3 separate regions of the Homo sapiens genome follow, and all the other regions are linked to region 3. Evidence: fine-mapped expression QTL. A gene starts in region 3. Each other region holds a variant in brackets. All regions are shown on one strand. Distances are between the middles of the regions. Region 1 overlaps ZP3 (zona pellucida glycoprotein 3). Region 2 holds the start of ZP3 (zona pellucida glycoprotein 3). Region 3 holds the start of DTX2 (deltex E3 ubiquitin ligase 2).

Region 1 (5,659 bases), 29 kb before region 3:
TGGTGTCAGGTAAAGATTCCGAGGTACAAAGACAGTACCTGTCCTGCCTCTTTCCTGACCAGTGGCAGAGCCTGTGTTCTCTTTTGTAGAGATGGGGTCTTGCTATGTTTCCCAGGCCAGTCTCAAACTCCTGGCCTCAAGCAATCCTTGGCCTCCCAAAGTGCTGGGGTTACAGGCATGAGTCACTGCACCTGGCCTTGACCCTGTGGTCTTTCTGTCCCCTTGTGGGCTGCCCTCCCTGAGCACTCAGGTATGGCTTGGGAGTACCCGGGCAGGTGATGGCCGGCAGCATTAACTTCTCACCTTTCCTCCAGGTAACTGACGATGCCCTGGTGTACAGCACCTTCCTGCTCCATGACCCCCGCCCCGTGGGAAACCTGTCCATCGTGAGGACTAACCGCGCAGAGATTCCCATCGAGTGCCGCTACCCCAGGTCGGTGTGGGACTGACTCATGGCCCCTGGTGCAAAAGCCCCTTGGGTGTGGCTGCAGGCAAGTGGGCTGGCTATGGGCTACAGCTTGCAGCATGGCTATTAGAACTACCTACCGAAGCATTTGCAGCTGTGGTTACTGTACTGCGTGGGATTGTGGGGCCTGCTGAGTCTAGTTCGAGCCCCAGAAGAGTATCAGGAGCCCAACTGCAGCTTAGCGGAAGCTTCAGAGCTGCTCAGCCCTGGTGGTGGTACTATGCCAGCCTCGGCCCTTAGGGTTCAGAAATGGCCTTCCAATAGTGCTAGGCTGGGGCCAGGTGCAGTGGCTCATCCTGTAATCCTAGCACTTTGGGAGGCTGACAGGTGGATCGCTTGAGGTCAAGGAGTTCAAGACCAGTCTGGCCTACATGGTGAAACCCCATCTCTACTAAAAACACAGAAATTAGCCGGGTGTCTATAATCCCAGCTACTTGGGAGGCTGAGGCAGGAGAATTGCTTGAACCCAGGAGGCAGAGGCTGCAGTGAGCCGAGATTGCACTGCTGTACTCCATTCTGGGCAACAAAGCGATACTCCATCGCAAAAAATAATAATAAAATAGTGCTAGGCTGCGTTCTAGAATCTGACCTGGGCGGTGGTGGCCTACTCTTCTGTGGTCCTCAAGCCCCTGGCATCAAGCACGTGCCTGTGAACTCAGGCCCTGAAGTGGGAGGAGAAACTATGGCTCCCAAGGACAACACTGGGTCCTGTGCTGGCCTCAGCATGGGGTGCAGGGGACTTTGTCCCTGCCCTTGAACCAGTCTGGGAGTGGGTATAAGATGATGCGGCCAGGTATGGTGGCTCACGCCTGTAATACCAGCCCTTTGGGAGGCCAAGGTGGGCAGCTCACGAGGTAAGGAGTTCAGGACCAGCCTGGCCAACATGGTGAAACCCATCTCTACTAAAAACACAAAAAAATTAGCCGAGTGTGGTAGCGCGTGCCTGTAATCTCAGCTACTCAGGAGGCTGAGGCAGGAGAATCATTTGAACCCAGGATGCAGAGGTTGCAGTGAGCTGAGATGGCACCATTGCACTCCAGCCTGGGCAACAGAGCAAGACTCCATCTCAAAAAGAAAATGCTAGTGTGAAGTGGGTAGGGAGCTGATACCAGTCAGGACATCATGAGGGATGAGCCATGCCCCTGGGAGGGGTCATGGTAGGGGTTATCCTAGAACAGGATCCTGGAGTGGGGGACCTTGAGGCTGAGATGGCCTGGGCAGAGCCATGTGGCCACACACCCAACGGGAGGGTAGTGTGCCCTTAGTAGGTGACATGCAGCCTGGGGGCTGGAGCCCAGGGACTGGGGTAATGAGGGAGCCAGACAGATGGGCTCACCAGCCTCACCACAGGTGCCCCTCCTGGAATGGGTGAGGACTGAATCTCCACCCAGGGTCACCTGGTGGCTGGTGCTGAAGACAAATGGGAACTAGTGAGAACCAGCTGGGAGGCTGGAAAACTGGGATTCAATGAGGCCTGACCCATGGTTGCAGGGACCGTAGAGGCTGACTCGCAGGAGCTAAGAGCAGTTGGAGGAGCTTGGTGCCTATGTGGGTAGGGGAGATGGAGGAGGATAGAGGAGTCAAGGGCAGGCTGCCCAGTCGGCATGAGGGACTGAAGCTGTCCTGTGACCGTGGAAGTCTGACTTCAGTCTCTGGGCCTGACCCCTGAGGATGGTGGCTCACCTGGTCCATTGGCTGTAGGTAGTATTAGAGAGGCTGGTTGTAGGCTGGGATGCTTTAACCTGGCTCCAGATACCTGAGTCTGGTTATCAATAGATGCATCCATCACTTGGAGTAGCTTCTTCCAGCAGATCCTATGGGGTTAGCAGGGTAGGTATCTGCAGATACCCAGACCTGCTTCCATGGACTTCCCAGTCACTGGTGTGGGTCCAGGCTCTCGGTAGCATCTCAAGACCTAAGGGCCTGTCTTTGATCTCTAAAGGATGGCCTTGGCTGGGCATGGTGGCTCACGCCTATAATCCCAGCACTTTGGGAGGCCGAGGCGGGCGGATCATGAGGTCAGGAGATGGAGACCATCCTGGCTAACGTGGTGAAACCCCGTCTCTACTAAAAATACAAAAAATTAGCCAGGCCTAGTGGCGGGTGCCTGTAGTCCCAGCTATTTGGGAGGCTGAGGCAGGAGAATGGCGTGAACCTGGGTGGTGGAGCTTGCAGTGAGCCGAGATCGTGCCACTGTACTCCAGCCTGGGAGACAAAGTGAGACTCCGTCTCAAAAAAAAAAAAAAAAGATGGCCTTAGCTGATTCCCCTCTCAAGCATCCTGTGGAGTACTGTGCAGGGCCTGCTATCAGACCCCAAACCTGAACCTCTAGGGCTAAAGTATGTGTGGTGGCTTTTGGTTTTTTGTTTAAAAAAAAAAAGTCTTACTCTGCCGCCCAGGCTGGAGTGCAGTGGGGTGCCATCATAGTTCACTGCAGCCTTGACCTCCTGGGCTCAAGCAATCCTCCCATCTCAGCCTCCTGAGTAGCTGGTATGTACTACTATGCCCAGCTATCTTTTCTTTTCTTTTCTTTTTTTTTTGAGATGGAGTCTTGCTCTGTTGCCCAGGCTGGAGTGCAGTGGTGTGATCTCAGCTCACTGCAAACTCCACCTCCGAGGTTCACGCCATTCTCCTGCCTCAGCCTCCCAAGTAGCTGGGACTAAAGGCGCCCGCCACCATGCCCGGATAATTTTATTTTTAGTGGAGATGGGGTTTCACCATGTTAGCCAGGATGGTCTCGATCTCCTGACCTCATGATCCGCCCGCCTCGGCCTCTCAAACTGCTGGGATTATAGGCTTGAGCCAC[C/T]GTGCCTGGCCTCTTTTCTTTTTTATAGAGATAGAGTCTTGCTATGTTGTCCAGGCTGCTCTCAAACTCCTAGCCTCAGGCAATCCTCCAGTCTCCACCTCCCAAAGTGCTGGGATTACAGGCATGAGCCACCGCACTCAGGTCCAGGGCTCAAGAGGGAGCAGATCTCAGTCTAGAAACCAAACTCCTAGGTTCAGCTGTATCTGTCTTCAGCGGCCCAGATAGCATCATAGCATCAGTTAGGATGGCTAGGCCACTCACAGGTGCAGAAGTTCAGGAGGGTGCAGGGGCAGCCTCAGGCTCAAGGTGTCTGTTCAGCCATCTCGCACCAGCTACCTGGCTGGGCCATAGCTGAGGACCCTGTAGTGGGGTAGCAGTGAGATACTCCCCATCAGTGGGGGCCCAGGTGGGTGTGACCTGAGGCAGGTGTGCACAGCTGCTGTTCTTCTCTCAGGCAGGGCAATGTGAGCAGCCAGGCCATCCTGCCCACCTGGTTGCCCTTCAGGACCACGGTGTTCTCAGAGGAGAAGCTGACTTTCTCTCTGCGTCTGATGGAGGGTAAGAGAAGAAGGCTGGGTGGGACATCTGTGGAAAGACCTGGGCCATCTCAGACCCCTGCCCTTGGCTGTGTCTTTTTTTTGTTTGTTTGGTTTTGGTTTTGGTTGGTTTTGGTTGGTTTTGGTTGGTTTTGGTTGGTTTTTGAGACAGTCTTGATCTGACCTCCAGGCTGGAGTGCAGTGGCACGATCTCAGCTCACTGCAGTCTCCACCTCCTGGGGTTCAAACGATTCTCCTGCCTCAGCCTCCCGAGTAACTGGGACTACAGGCTTCTGACACCACACCCAGCTAACTTTTCTATTTTTAGTAGAGATGGGGTTTTGCCACGTTGGCTAGGCTGGTCTCGAACTCCTGACCTCAGGTGATCCACCTGCCTCAGCCTCCCAAGGTGCTGGGATTACAGGCATGAGCCACCATGCCCAGCTGACTGTGTCTTTCAGAGAACTGGAACGCTGAGAAGAGGTCCCCCACCTTCCACCTGGGAGATGCAGCCCACCTCCAGGCAGAAATCCACACTGGCAGCCACGTGCCACTGCGGTTGTTTGTGGACCACTGCGTGGCCACACCGACACCAGACCAGAATGCCTCCCCTTATCACACCATCGTGGACTTCCATGGGTGAGCACTGGGCTCCCTGCCTAGAGAACCTTCCTAGCAAAATGACCCTAAAGCCACCTGTTTGGCTTTTTGAGACAGTGTCACTCTGTAACCCAGGCTGGAATACAGAGGCTTGATCTCTGCCCTCTGCAACCTCTGCCTCCCAGGTTTAAGTGATTCTCCTGCCTCAGCCCCCCAAGTAGCTGAGATTACAGGTGCCCATCACCATGCCTGGCTAATTTTTGTATTTTTAGTAGAGACAAGGTTTCACCATGTTTGCCAGGCTAGTCTCGAACTCCTGACCTCAAGTGATCCACCCACCTTGGCCTCCCAAAGTGCTGGGATTATGGGCGTGAGCCACGGTGCCCGGCCCACCTGTCTGGCTTTAATACCGTTCTGTTTTCTTCCAAGCTGTCTTGTCGACGGTCTCACTGATGCCTCTTCTGCATTCAAAGTTCCTCGACCCGGGCCAGATACACTCCAGTTCACAGTGGATGTCTTCCACTTTGCTAATGACTCCAGAAACATGGTAAGAGCTTTAACAGCCTGAAAGAAGGCTGAACTTGCAACCTTCATATCCTACTGAATGGGGTCACTCACTAGCTCCACCCCTAAGCAAATGACTTAGAGCTGTGTCCCAGTAACTCAAACTTACAAGTAAAGCCATGAGCTTTAGCGAGGCCTTCAAGCAGAAGGATGAACAATATGAAGCCTTAAGAGGTAGAGGCCGGGCACGGTGGCTCATGCTTGTAATCCCAATACTTTGGGAGGCCGAGGGGGGTGGATCACTTGAGGTCAGGAGTTCAAGACCAGCCTGGCCAACATAGTAAAACCCCGACTCTACTAAATATACAAAAAAAATTAGCTGAGTGTGGTGGTTGGGTACCTGTAATCCCAGCTACCTGGGAGGCTGAAGCAGGAGAATAGCTTGAACCTGGGAGGCAGAGGTTGCAGTGAGCAGAGATTGTGCCACTGCACCTCCAGCCTGAGTGACAGTGAGACTCCATCTCCAAAAAAAAAAAAAAAGGCAGGTGTTAGCCTTCCTGGAGGCTTTCTGCAGGGGCAAAGAAAACCAGTGTGAACTTCGTAGCCAGGGTGGCTTCTTGAACTTGGTCATAGGTTAGGCTAGTGATTCTGAAGGCATCATCCTCAGCTGGAGGGCTTGTTGAAATTGATGACTGGGCCCCAACCCAGGGTTTGATTCAGGTGGTCTAGTGAAGCCTAGAATCTGCA
Region 2 (5,659 bases), 36 kb before region 3:
GCTGAGGCAGGCGGATCACCTGAGGTCAGGAGTTCCAGACCAGCCTGACCAACATGGTGGAACCCTGTCTTTACTAAAAATACAAAAAGTAGCTGGGCTTGGTGGCAGGCGCCTGTAATCCCAGCTACTCAGGAGGCTGAGGGAGGAGAATTGCTTGAATCCAGGAGGAGGAGGTTGCAGTGAGCTGAGATCGCGCCACTGCACTCCAGCCTGGGCGACAGAGCAAGATTCCGTCTCAAAAAAAAAAAAAAGAAAGAAAAGAAATTAACATGAGGGCCAGGCACAGTGGCTCACACCTGTAATCCCAGCACTTTGGGAGGCCGAGGAGGGAGAATCACTTGAGGTCCAGAGTTCGAGACCAGCCTGGCCAACATGGTGAAACCCCGTCTTTACTAAAAATACAAAAGTTAGCCGGGCATGGTGACGGGTGCCTGTAATCCCAGCTACTCGGGAGGCTGAGGTGGAGAATCACTTGAACCCAGGAGGCGGAGGTTGCAGTGAGTCGAGATAGCACCACTGCACTCCAGCCTGGGCGACAGAATGAGATCCTGTCTCAAAAGAAAGAAAGAGAGAGAGAGAGAGAGAGAAAGAAAGAAAGAAAGAAAGAAAGAAAGAAAGAAAGAAAGAAAGAAAGAAAGAAAGAAAAGAAATTGACAGGAGGCTAAACGAGTTTTCCTAGACAAAGCTTCATTGGAGCTTATGCCCAGACATAAAGGAGGCAGCATGAGAGAGAGAGGGAGAGAGAGGGAAAGAGAGAGGGAGAGAGAGGGAAAGAGAGAGAGAGAGGGAAAGAGAGAGAGAGAGGGAAAGATATAGAGATTTTTCTATCTGACTCTCCAAAAAGAGCCAGGAGGGCTTTTTTATTAGGCAAAGCATGGGAATTTACATCAGGGATAGGGCATGCCGGCTGTGCTGGGCAAAGCACGTGAAGGTATGCAGGTTGGCATTATCTGGTTGCCATGGTTATCTTGAGTTATGGGCCACCTGGTAGTCTGGCTGGTGGCAACAAGGCTGTCAATCAGTTCAGCATTCCTTCCTGAGGTGGGACACTCCACAACCTTGGTTTGATATTTGAATCTCCTAAGGTCAGTTCCTGGGATTCTCTTAAGTAATAGGCATGTTTCCACATGATGATGTCAGTGAAATCGTGGTATGGGTCTGGTGATCACTGGGAATGCAGGAAAGAATGCAGTGGTTGGGCCAGGTGTGGTGGCTCATGTCTGTAATCCCAGCACTTTGGGAGACTGAGGTGGGCGGATCCCTTGTGGTGAGGAGCTGGGCATGGTGGAACAAGCCTGTAATCCCAGTTACTCGGGAGAGTAAGGCAGAAGAATTGCTTGAACCTGGGAGGCGGAGGCTGCAGTGAGCTGAGATTGCACCACTACACTCCAGCCTGGGCAACAGAGTGAGATTGTCTCAAAAAAAAAAAAGAATGCCCTGGTCGGGGTGAGCTGAAGCCAAGCCCCGCTTCTGCTGTGTCTCAGTATGAACTCCGGGGGATTCACCCAGGAATGAAGAACGCAGGGCCCCTTCTCCACCTCTCTTCACACAGCTGCCTCTGCCTGAACTGACCTACCCCCCGGCCTCCCATAAAATAAGGCAGAGACCCATGAAATTCCTCCTGTCTCCTAATTGATACCGCCTCCTTTTTCTCACACTTGGAATGAGCTCCTTATGTCTCAGATCTAATCCCCCTGACTCTTCAATCAAGGGCTTTCTCCTGTGTCCCCCACAGACCTGGGACAGCTCCCTTGCCGGGCTGCGAGCTTCCTAAGGGCAGGGCCAGCAGGGGATCGGAGGGAAGCTGTGATACATTGTGGTGCACCAGGCAGGCAGCACACTCTTTGCAAACTTTTACATGAATACACATGGGGATTTACAAGCTAAAAACTTTCAAGTGGGCTGGGGCGGGCGCGGTGGCTCACACCTGTCATCCCAGCACTTTGGGAGGCTGAGGCAGGAGGATCACTGGAGGTCAGGACTTCAAGACCAGCCTGCCCAACATAGTGAAACCCTGTCTCTACCAAAAATACAAAAATTAGCCAGGCGCGGTGGCGCATGCCTTCCTGTAATCCCAGCTATTTGGGAGTCTGAGGCAGGAGAATCACTTGAACCTGGCTGAGAAGTGGAGGATGCAGTGAAACGAGATCATACCACTGCACTCCAGCCTGGACAACAGAGTGAGACTCTGTCTCAAAACAAAACAAAACACAACAAAAACAAACAAACCACAAACACACACACACACAGCAAAAAAAAACTTTAATGTGGATACACGTGGGGGATTTCCAAGCTAAAAACCAAATTCTGCTGTGGTCATGCTGGGGTGAAGGCTGAGAGTTTGCAGTTCTAACAAGCTCCCAGGTGTTACTGATGCTTCTGGATGGAGACCACTTTATGCAACAAGGGCCCAGCTGGCTAGGGAAGGGAGGCAGCTGAGAAGCTGAGAGCCCAGGTGGCAGCAGCCAGCATCCCACGGGTATAAGATGGCCAGAGGCGGCTGCCTGCTGCTCTGCAGGTACCATGGAGCTGAGCTATAGGCTCTTCATCTGCCTCCTGCTCTGGGGTAGTACTGAGCTGTGCTACCCCCAACCCCTCTGGCTCTTGCAGGGTGGAGCCAGCCATCCTGAGACGTCCGTACAGCCCGTACTGGTGGAGTGTCAGGAGGCCACTCTGATGGTCATGGTCAGCAAAGACCTTTTTGGCACCGGGAAGCTCATCAGGGCTGCTGACCTCACCTTGGGCCCAGAGGCCTGTGAGCCTCTGGTCTCCATGGACACAGAAGATGTGGTCAGGTTTGAGGTTGGACTCCACGAGTGTGGCAACAGCATGCAGGTAAGAGAGGCTGGGGGCCCTGGCTTTGGTGGGAGGATGTTCGAGGCAGCCGGGTATGGGGACTGTGGCCACCATCGGTGGGAGGTGGGGTTGGGTGGATCCCTCTCACTTGTAGGTGGGGAGGTGGCCCAGTTGAGGCCTGAAGCTGGCACTGAGGTCACCGGACCCAGGGCAGCTCCTGCCTCTGATGCCCGACATTGGGTCGATGGGGTGGAGCCAGAGGTGGCCGTGCACTTCAGGCTGGCCCAAGCCACGCCACTCTCTCTCAGGTGGGTTTGTGACACACACAGGCCTG[C/G]GTGATAGGATAGCCCTGTGGGTAGCCTAAGGGGCTGTTTCTAAGGCTGGGGGCATTAGGAACTCATCCTGAAGAGACCCAAAGTATACATTATCTTAAAAACAACAAGTGGGCCGGGTGCAGTGGCTCATGCCTGTAGTCCCAGCACTATGGGAGGCCAAGACTGGAGGATCACTTGAGGCCAGGAGTTTGAGGCCAGCCTGGGCAACATAGTGAGACCCCATCTCTTAAGCCTTTAAAAAAACTAACTGGGGCCTGGTGTGGTGGCTCACGCCTGTAATTCCAGCACTTTGGGAGGCTGAGGAGTTTGAGACCAGCCTGGCCAACATGGTGAAACCCCATCTCTACTAATAATACAAAAATTAGCCAGGCATGGTGGTGCGTGTCTGTAATCCCAGCTACTCAGGAGGCTGAGGCAGGAGAATCGCTTGAACCCAGGAGGCAAAGGTTGCAGTGAGCTGAGATTGTGCCACTGCACTCCAGCCTAGGCAACAGAGCGAGACTCTGGCTCAAAAAAAAAAAAAAAATTCCACATAGATAAGTGGTATGGGGGCGGGGGCATCATAACCTTGGTGTTAAAGACCTTAAAAGCATCAGTGGGTCCCTGGGGGCAGCTCCAAGGGGGAGAGGCTTAACCTGTGGTACATGCAGGAAAAGACCAAGAAATCCAGGCCAGACCTCCCTTTCCCTAGCCAGTGGGGAAAGAGGCTGCAAGGAGAGGCCTTACGGCAGGGCAGGGCTGGGCACACAGCTCCCCAGCTAAACCCTGATCCCTGGACCAAGTTCCTGTGGTCCCATGGAGGGCCTGTCCTCTCCCGCCTCAGGGGAACCTGGCTCCTCCTCACCTGGGCCTAGACCCAGTAGCTTGCCTGGGATGGGGGCAAGTCCAGCCCCTGGAGCCCTCCGGCCAGAGCTCTGGTCTTAACTGTGGTCTCCTGGGCTCTCTTTGAGGACTCGAGGCCCTTGTTTTCCTGGGGAGGGAGGCCAGAGAGCTGCAGGAGTTACTTGAGGAATTATTCCAGTTTAGAGGCTCACAAACATGTCTTAGATTTACTTGGGGAGCCAGGTGCCTGGCTCCCCCCCCTTCTGTGAAATGGGCTTTAATAGGTTAGAAGCTGATAAGTGGTATTTTTTTGTTGTTGTTTTTGTTTTTTGAGACAGTTTTGCTCTTATTGCCCAGGCTGGAGTGCAATGGCGCCTATAATCCCAGCACTTTGGGAGGCTGAGATGGGAGGATCACTTGGGCCCGGGAGTTTAAGGCCACCCTGGGCAACATAATGAGACCCCCTTCTCTACCAAACACCACACACACACACACACACACACACACACACACAATAGGGTGTGGTGGCGCCTGCCTTTAGTCTCAGCTACTTGGGAGGCTGAAGTGGGAGGATTGCTTAAACCCATGATTTGGAGGCTGCAGTGAGCTACGATTGTGCCACTGCATTCCAGCCTGGAAGGCAGAGCAAGACCCTCTTTTATTAACCCCACCTGTGGAGCTTCTAAAAATCCTGATGTCCAGGCTGCTAAAATAGAAAGGATGTGGGACCAGCTGTGGGTAATAAGGATCTCAGGTGACTCCAATGAGGAGCAAAGCCTGCAAACTCCTTCCTCTGGTGTGGTGTTTCCCAGTTTTGCCCGGTGAGAATCACCTGCGGCTGGCCGTGCGCAGTGGCTCACGCCTGTAATCCCAGCACTTTGGGAGGCCGAGGCGGGTGAATCACGAGGTCAGGAGTTCAAGACCAGCCTGGCCACGATGGTGAAACCTCATCTCTACTAAAAATACAAAGAAGTTAGCCGGGTGTGGTGGCGGGCACCTGTAATCCCAGCTACTCAGGAGTCTGAGGCAGAGAATTGCTTGAACCCGGGAGGCGTAGGTTGCAGTGAGTTGAGATCGTGCCACTGCACTCCAGCCTGGGCAACAGAGTGAGACTCCGTCTCAAAAAAAAAAAAAAAAAAAATACAGCCATGGCCAGTTTCCCAGGTATACAACCTGTGCAGTTCTGTGGGGCCCAGTGCTTAATGGAATGCCCTCTTGCCCTGAAATGGTAATAACTTTTGAATAAGGGGCCCCACGAGCTATGCTGGTTCTGTCTGTGCTGGGGCACTTGCTAATAAGGTCTAGGACTATTCCCTGAAGATCGAGTTTGGTCAGGGCCAGGCAGCCACCTGAGCTCTTGGGCAACTTCGACCTCCTAGGCTCAAGCCATCCTCCTGCCTCAGCCTCCTGAATAGCTGGGATGGACTACAGGCACATGCCACCGTGCCCAGCCAAGTTATGTTTTTGTAGAGATGGGGTCTAGCTCTATTGCCCAGGCTGGTCGTGACTTCCTGGCCTCAAGCAATCCTCTTCCCTCCCAAAGTGCTGGGATTACAGGCATGAGCCACTGCACCCAGCCCTCAAGTAGTTTTTAAATAAGCTCCCTGAGATGAGAGGTGGGGATAGTGAGCTTAGAATAGGTGGTTGGGGGTTGAGTCATGGTGGCTCACACCTGTAATCCAGCACTTTGGGAGGCTGAGGCAGGT
Region 3 (5,659 bases):
TTCCTTTTTTTTCTTTTTTTCAGACCGAGTCTCAGTCTGTCACCCAGGCTAGTGCAATGGTGCAATTTTGGCTCACTACACCCTCTGCCTCCCAGATTCAAGCGATTCTCCTGCCTCAGCCTCCCGAGTAGGTGGATTACAGGTGTGCACCGCTGCACCCAGCTAATTTTTGTATTTTTAGTAGAGACGAGGTTTCACCATGTTGGCCAGACTGGTCTTGAACTCCTGATCTCAGGTGATCCACCTGCCTCCGCCTCCCAAAGTGCTGGGATTATAGGCATGAGCCGCCTTGCCTGGCTCAAAGTTCCTTTTTGGTTTAACAATAGATCTAGGCCACTGTGAGTCTTCCTCATTCCTTCTAGGGCTACCTAGTGTTCCGGGGTTATTTAACCAGCCCCCTCCTACCAGGCAGTTCTTTTGTCTCTGGCCCTTTGCTACGTATATTAGTTTAAAGTTCACTTTGCAAGTGGCCAAGCCTGTTTCCCTCATTTCCAGGTTCCCAGGGGGCAGACATCCTGCTGCAATTTCAGAAGTCAGCACACTCTTCTCTCTCCTGTCTAAAATACAAAAGTCCATGCCCCCCACTCTCCCTCTTGATACTGTCCTATTTTACTTCTTTTCACAACCAGAACTCTTTATTTTTCCCAAATAAAAATAGTCCGTCTTTTCAGATTTTAAAAATGGAACTCTGGCCGGATGCGGTGGCCCTCACCTGTAATCCCAGCACTTTGGAAGGCTGCAGTGGGCAGATTACCTGAGGTCAGGAGTTTGAGATCAGCCTGGCTGACATGGTGAAACTCTGTCTCTACTAAAAATACAAAAATTAGCCCGGATGCGGTGGCTCACATCTGTAATCCCAGTACTTTGGGAGACCGAGGTGGGCAGATCACGAGGTCAGGAGTTCAAGACCAGCCTGGCCAACATGGTGAAACCCTGTCTCTACTAAAATACAAAAATTAGCTGGGCATGGTGGCATCCGCCTGTAATCACAGTTACTCGGCAGGCTGAGGAAGAATTGCTTGAACCTGGGAGGCGGAGTTTGCAGTGAGCTGAGATTGTGCCATTGCACTCCAGCCTGGGCGACAGAGCAAGACTCCGTCTCAAAAATATATATATATACAAAAATTAGCTGAGTGTGGTGGTGCATGCCTGTAATCCCAGCTACTCGGGAGGTGAGGCAGGAGAATCACTTGAACCTGGGAGGCGGAGGTTGCAGTGAGCCGAGATTGTGCCATTTCACTCCAGCCTGGACAACAAGAGCAAAACTCGTCTCAAAAAAAAAAAAAAGGAAAATAAAAATCCCTGATAAAGGATCAATGACCTTAGGATAATGTCATTCCAGGTAAGTATCTTTAACTGGGTACTTGGTCCTCCAAGATTCAGAGGACCTTGATCCCCCTGAAACTGTATACATAATATTCAACATACATAGTATGTGCACACATGTGCAAACACTCACATTATCTAAAATTCATCATAATCTTACCCCGGCTTCTCCCCACACTCCTCAGATCCTGCTATAGCCTAGTGCATTTTCTCCTTCCTCACTCCCTTCCCTCCATGTGTCCTCTGCCCTGGCCACCAGGAACTTTGTGCTGCCTCCGGAGTGCATGAGGCACTTTCACATCTCTCTTGCTTTACAAGAGCTTCCCTATGCTCCAACTGGCAAATTTCTCTATGGACTGAAAAACCCACATAGCCTTTATCTGTCTTGTGATGTCTTCTCCCCACCCTCAAGTTAGGCATACCCTTCTATGCCCTCCTTTATCCAAACATTTTCCCCACTATATCGTAATTGTGTGTTTAAGTGCCGGACTTTCCAACTAGATACAAAGCTTTCCCAGGAAAGAAATCCTTTTCTTTTCTTCTTTCTTTCTTTTCTTTTCTTTTCTTTCTTTTTTTTTTTTTTTTTTTTGAGACAGATTCCCACTGTGTCGTCCAGGCTGGAGTGCAGTGGCACAATCTTGGCTCAGTGCAACCTCCACCTCCAGGGTTCAAGTGATTCTCTTGCCTCAGTCTTCCAAGTAGCTGGGATTACAGGCACGCGCCACCACACCCAGTTAATTATTATTATTATTATTATTTTTTTTTTTTTTTGAGACGGAGTCTCGCTCTGTCACCCAGGCTGGAGTGCAGTGGCACAATCTCGGCTCACTGCAAGCTCCGCCTCCCGGGTTCACGCCATTCTCCTGCCTCAGCCTCCCGAGTAGCTGGGACTACAGGAGCCCACCACTACGCCCGCTTAATTTTTTTTTTTTTTTGTATTTTTAGTAGAGACGGGGTTTCACCGTGGTCTCGATCTCCTGCCCTCGTGATCCGCCCGCCTCGGCCTCCCAGAGTGCTGGGATTACAGGCGTGAGCCACTGCGCCCGGCCTCCACACCCAGTTAATTTTTGTATTTTTAGTAGAGACGGGGTTTCACCATGTTGGCCAGGATGGTCTCAATCTCTTGACCTTGTGATCTGGCTGCCTCGGCCTCCCAAAGTGCTGGGATTACAGGCGTGAGCCACCGCTCCCGGCGAGAAACCTTTTCTTTTTCTTTTTTCTTCTTCTTCGTCTTTTTTTTTTTTTCTTTTGAGAGGGATTCCTGTTCCGTCGCCCAGGCTGGAGTGCAATGGCGCGATCTTGGCTCACTACAGCCTCTGCCTCCCGGGTTCAAGCGATTCTCTTGCCTCAGCCTCCCGAGTAGCTGGGATTACAGGCACGAGCCACCACGCCCGGCTAGTTTTTTTTGGTATTTTTAGTAGAGACGGGGTTTCGCCATGATGGCCAGGCTGGTCTGGAACTCCCGACCTCAGGTGATCCGCCCACCTCTGCCTCTCAAAGTGCAGGGATTACAGGCATGAGCCACTGCGCCCAGCCAAGAAACCATTTCTGATTCACCTATTCACTCCCGCACTCCCACTACACAGTAGCTAAATAAATAAATAAATATTAAAAATAAATAGGAAAGAAAGAGAGAAAAAAAGAAAAGAAAAAGACAAAAATTTAAATTTAAAAAGGTTGTGCTCGATGGCTCACACTTGCAACCCCAGTGCTTTGGGAGGCTGAATGAAGCAAGAGGATCGCTTGAGGCCAGGAGTTTGAGATCGGCCTGAGCAACGTTGCAGCATTGCAAAACCCCCATCTGTACAAAAAAGAAAAATAAAATTAATTTTAAAAACAAAAAAAGAGAAACAGTAGCACATGTATGTACTGGCACCATGTATGTACTAGTAAAAACTAGTTAAAATTAAGTCAGTAATTAATGAAGGAATAAGTCAATGAGTGAGCAGGCGAAGGAAGAAAACATAGACCGGAGCAGGTGCGCCTTGGGTTGAGCCCTTCCCCGCTGAGCCCCGCCTTCTGCCCGCCCCTGGGCCCTACCGGGACTACATTTCCCAGAAGGCCGCACGCCCCGGGCATGCGCAGCGGCTCGCTCGGAAGCTGCGACGCCGAGTTTCACTCTGGCTGCCTTCTCCTGAGAGTCGGAGCCACAGCCAGAGCCCTGCCCAGGCCGAGCCGGAGCTGCAGCCCGAGCGCGGTGGTGCCCTCAGCCCCGTCCTCTTGTCCTCCTCAGCCTCGGTGAGAGGGCGGGAAGGCCACCTGCGCGTCGCTAGGGCTGCGGTCCCAGGGGCGCGGGGTGGCGCGGGGAGCCGGAGCCTAGCTGGGACCGGAAGGGGGCGGGCGTGGGTGTGAGGGGGACCGACGGCCGGGGCGGCGGGGACACCCGGGGGTCCCGGGAGATCGGGGGTGTCGGGGGGATCGGTCTCCGGGATCAAGGTCCTGAGGGCGAGAGTTGGGGGACTTGGGAGGCGCCGGCAGCTTTGGACGGGACAGGGTGCCGGGTGCGAAAGGGGACGTTCGGATGAAGGCTGAGGGGCTCGCAGGCGGAGGGGCGCGGTTCCGGGTCGCTCGGAAGGCGCGCACCCCTTCCCAAAGTACCCAGAGGAGGGGGTGACGAGATTGCCACCGGCTCCCTGACGAGGGGTTGGTCCTGCTGGGGTCTACCCCCAGGTGAAGGGACTCACTGGGCCGGGGGTTGTACTTTGGAGGAGTTTGCTTCCTAACTCTGCTTCCCTGCTTTCCTGTGGGGGGTCTTCCCAGGAGTTCCTGGGGCCCTGGGTCACTTTTTGGGGTGCGTAAGGGGTGCCGAAAAAGATTTAGAACTCGGTTCCCTTTTCTGGAGCTGCGCTTTCATCGCGACTGTCTCAGCCAGCTGCCCTCCTCCTCCAAGCTGGCTCCACTTCTCTAAGCGCCAACAGCGATGGAAATAAATAGCATGTGTACAGACGCCTGGACCCTTGAGAAACTCAGAATATTTCTGCATGCCTTCCTAGCTCCTCTAGCGCTCTAGAAGGTAGACTTTCTGGTAGCCACCATCCGGGCTTAAGCCATCCGGATAGCAAGCCCTCTGATTCGGTTGCTCTGTGACCTTAAATATTTACCCTCTCTGGTGTGTTGATTTCCTGGATGCTTAGCTGCCAGACTGGCTTATGAAGTCCTTTTAGAGTTTTCTGTAAAAGGGCTCAGGCCAGGCACGGTGGCTCATGCCTGTAATCCCAGCCCTTTGGGAGGCCGAGGTGGAAGGATCATTTGAGTCCAGGAATTTGAGACAAGCCTGGGAAACGAAGAGGATTCCTGAGATCACTGTCTCTATAAAAAATCAGATGGGCGTGTTGGTGGGTGCCTGTAGTCCCAGCTACTTGGGAGGCTGAGGCAGGAGGATCGCTTGAGCCCAGGAGTTGGAGGCTGCAGTGAGCTGTGATCACACCACTGCACTGCAGCATGGGCGACAGAGGGAGACCCCGTCTCAAAAAACAAAAAACAAACAAACTAAAAAAACGAACTTTTTTTTTTTTTTAAGAAAAGGGCTCAGAGCCAGGCGTGGTGACTCGAGCCTATAATCCCAGCTACTCGGGAAGCTGAGGCAGGAGAGTAGCTTGAACCTGGGAGGCGGAGGCTGCAGTGAGCCGAGATCACGCCACTGCACTCCAGCTTGGGTGACAGAGCAAGACTCCGTCTCCAAAAACTAATAATAATAAAAAATTTTAAAAAGAGCTCAGGGTTTTTTTGTTTGTTTGCTTTTTGTTGTTTCTTCAACCATCTCCTTGATTGTTAAGTGGGTGGAGGAAGACTGTTGTACCTCCTGCTCCACCCAGGCTATTGGAAAATAAATCTGGTGATTTTCAGTCCCCAGGCACAGCACACGGATCCAACATCTGTACCTTTGTTTTTACTAACTGCTGTTTCTTAATTTAAAACCTGATCATCTTCTTCCTCGTTGGCAAAGGTGCCTTGGAATTTGTGTCGCTGAGTCAGCAAGCCTTTCAGATTTGCCCGGTTTTTGTTGTTTGTGGTTTGTATCAAGATGGGAACTCAAACAAGTCATTCCTCCTAAGGAGCTGGTGTCTTCATCCAGAAGGGACAGTTTGTGCCAGCTCTCCAGAGAGAAAAGGTGAGAGCCATGGGGACTTGACCTTGCTGCCTTCTCTATCTGGTGCAGAGAAGGTGGGGATTGGGGAGGGTGGAATTTGAGGTCTGCAGGATAAACGTGTGCCCTGGGAGTTGACTGTTGATTGCCACCTGTCTCAAATAAATTGCAGTGGCGTCTTGCCACTGCTTCTCCTGTTTAACTAACTAGTCTTAGAAGATGCTTTCCACTTTAAGACATGCTTTA

Evidence for each region.
Region 1: its variant is fine-mapped to the expression of DTX2 in whole blood (TOPMed, PIP above 0.99).
Region 2: its variant is fine-mapped to the expression of DTX2 in T cells (TOPMed, PIP above 0.99).

Annotation. Positions count from the first base shown.
Region 1 is chr7:76,429,201-76,434,859 of GRCh38, forward strand. It overlaps ZP3 (zona pellucida glycoprotein 3), which reads left to right. Exons shown (of 8, transcript NM_001110354.2): 2 at 315-433; 3 at 3,727-3,830; 4 at 4,270-4,447; 5 at 4,838-4,955. Among named protein-coding and RNA genes, the nearest start is that of ZP3, 7.1 kb to the left of the region's middle. The variant C/T (reference allele first, on the strand shown) is at 3,273.
Region 2 is chr7:76,422,442-76,428,100 of GRCh38, forward strand. It overlaps ZP3 (zona pellucida glycoprotein 3), which reads left to right and starts at 2,509. Exons shown (of 8, transcript NM_001110354.2): 1 at 2,509-2,835. The coding sequence starts at 2,524. RefSeq lists a silencer at 1,611-1,905. The variant C/G (reference allele first, on the strand shown) is at 3,131.
Region 3 is chr7:76,458,273-76,463,931 of GRCh38, forward strand. It overlaps DTX2 (deltex E3 ubiquitin ligase 2), which reads left to right and starts at 3,437. Exons shown (of 11, transcript NM_001102594.3): 1 at 3,437-3,564; 2 at 5,273-5,437.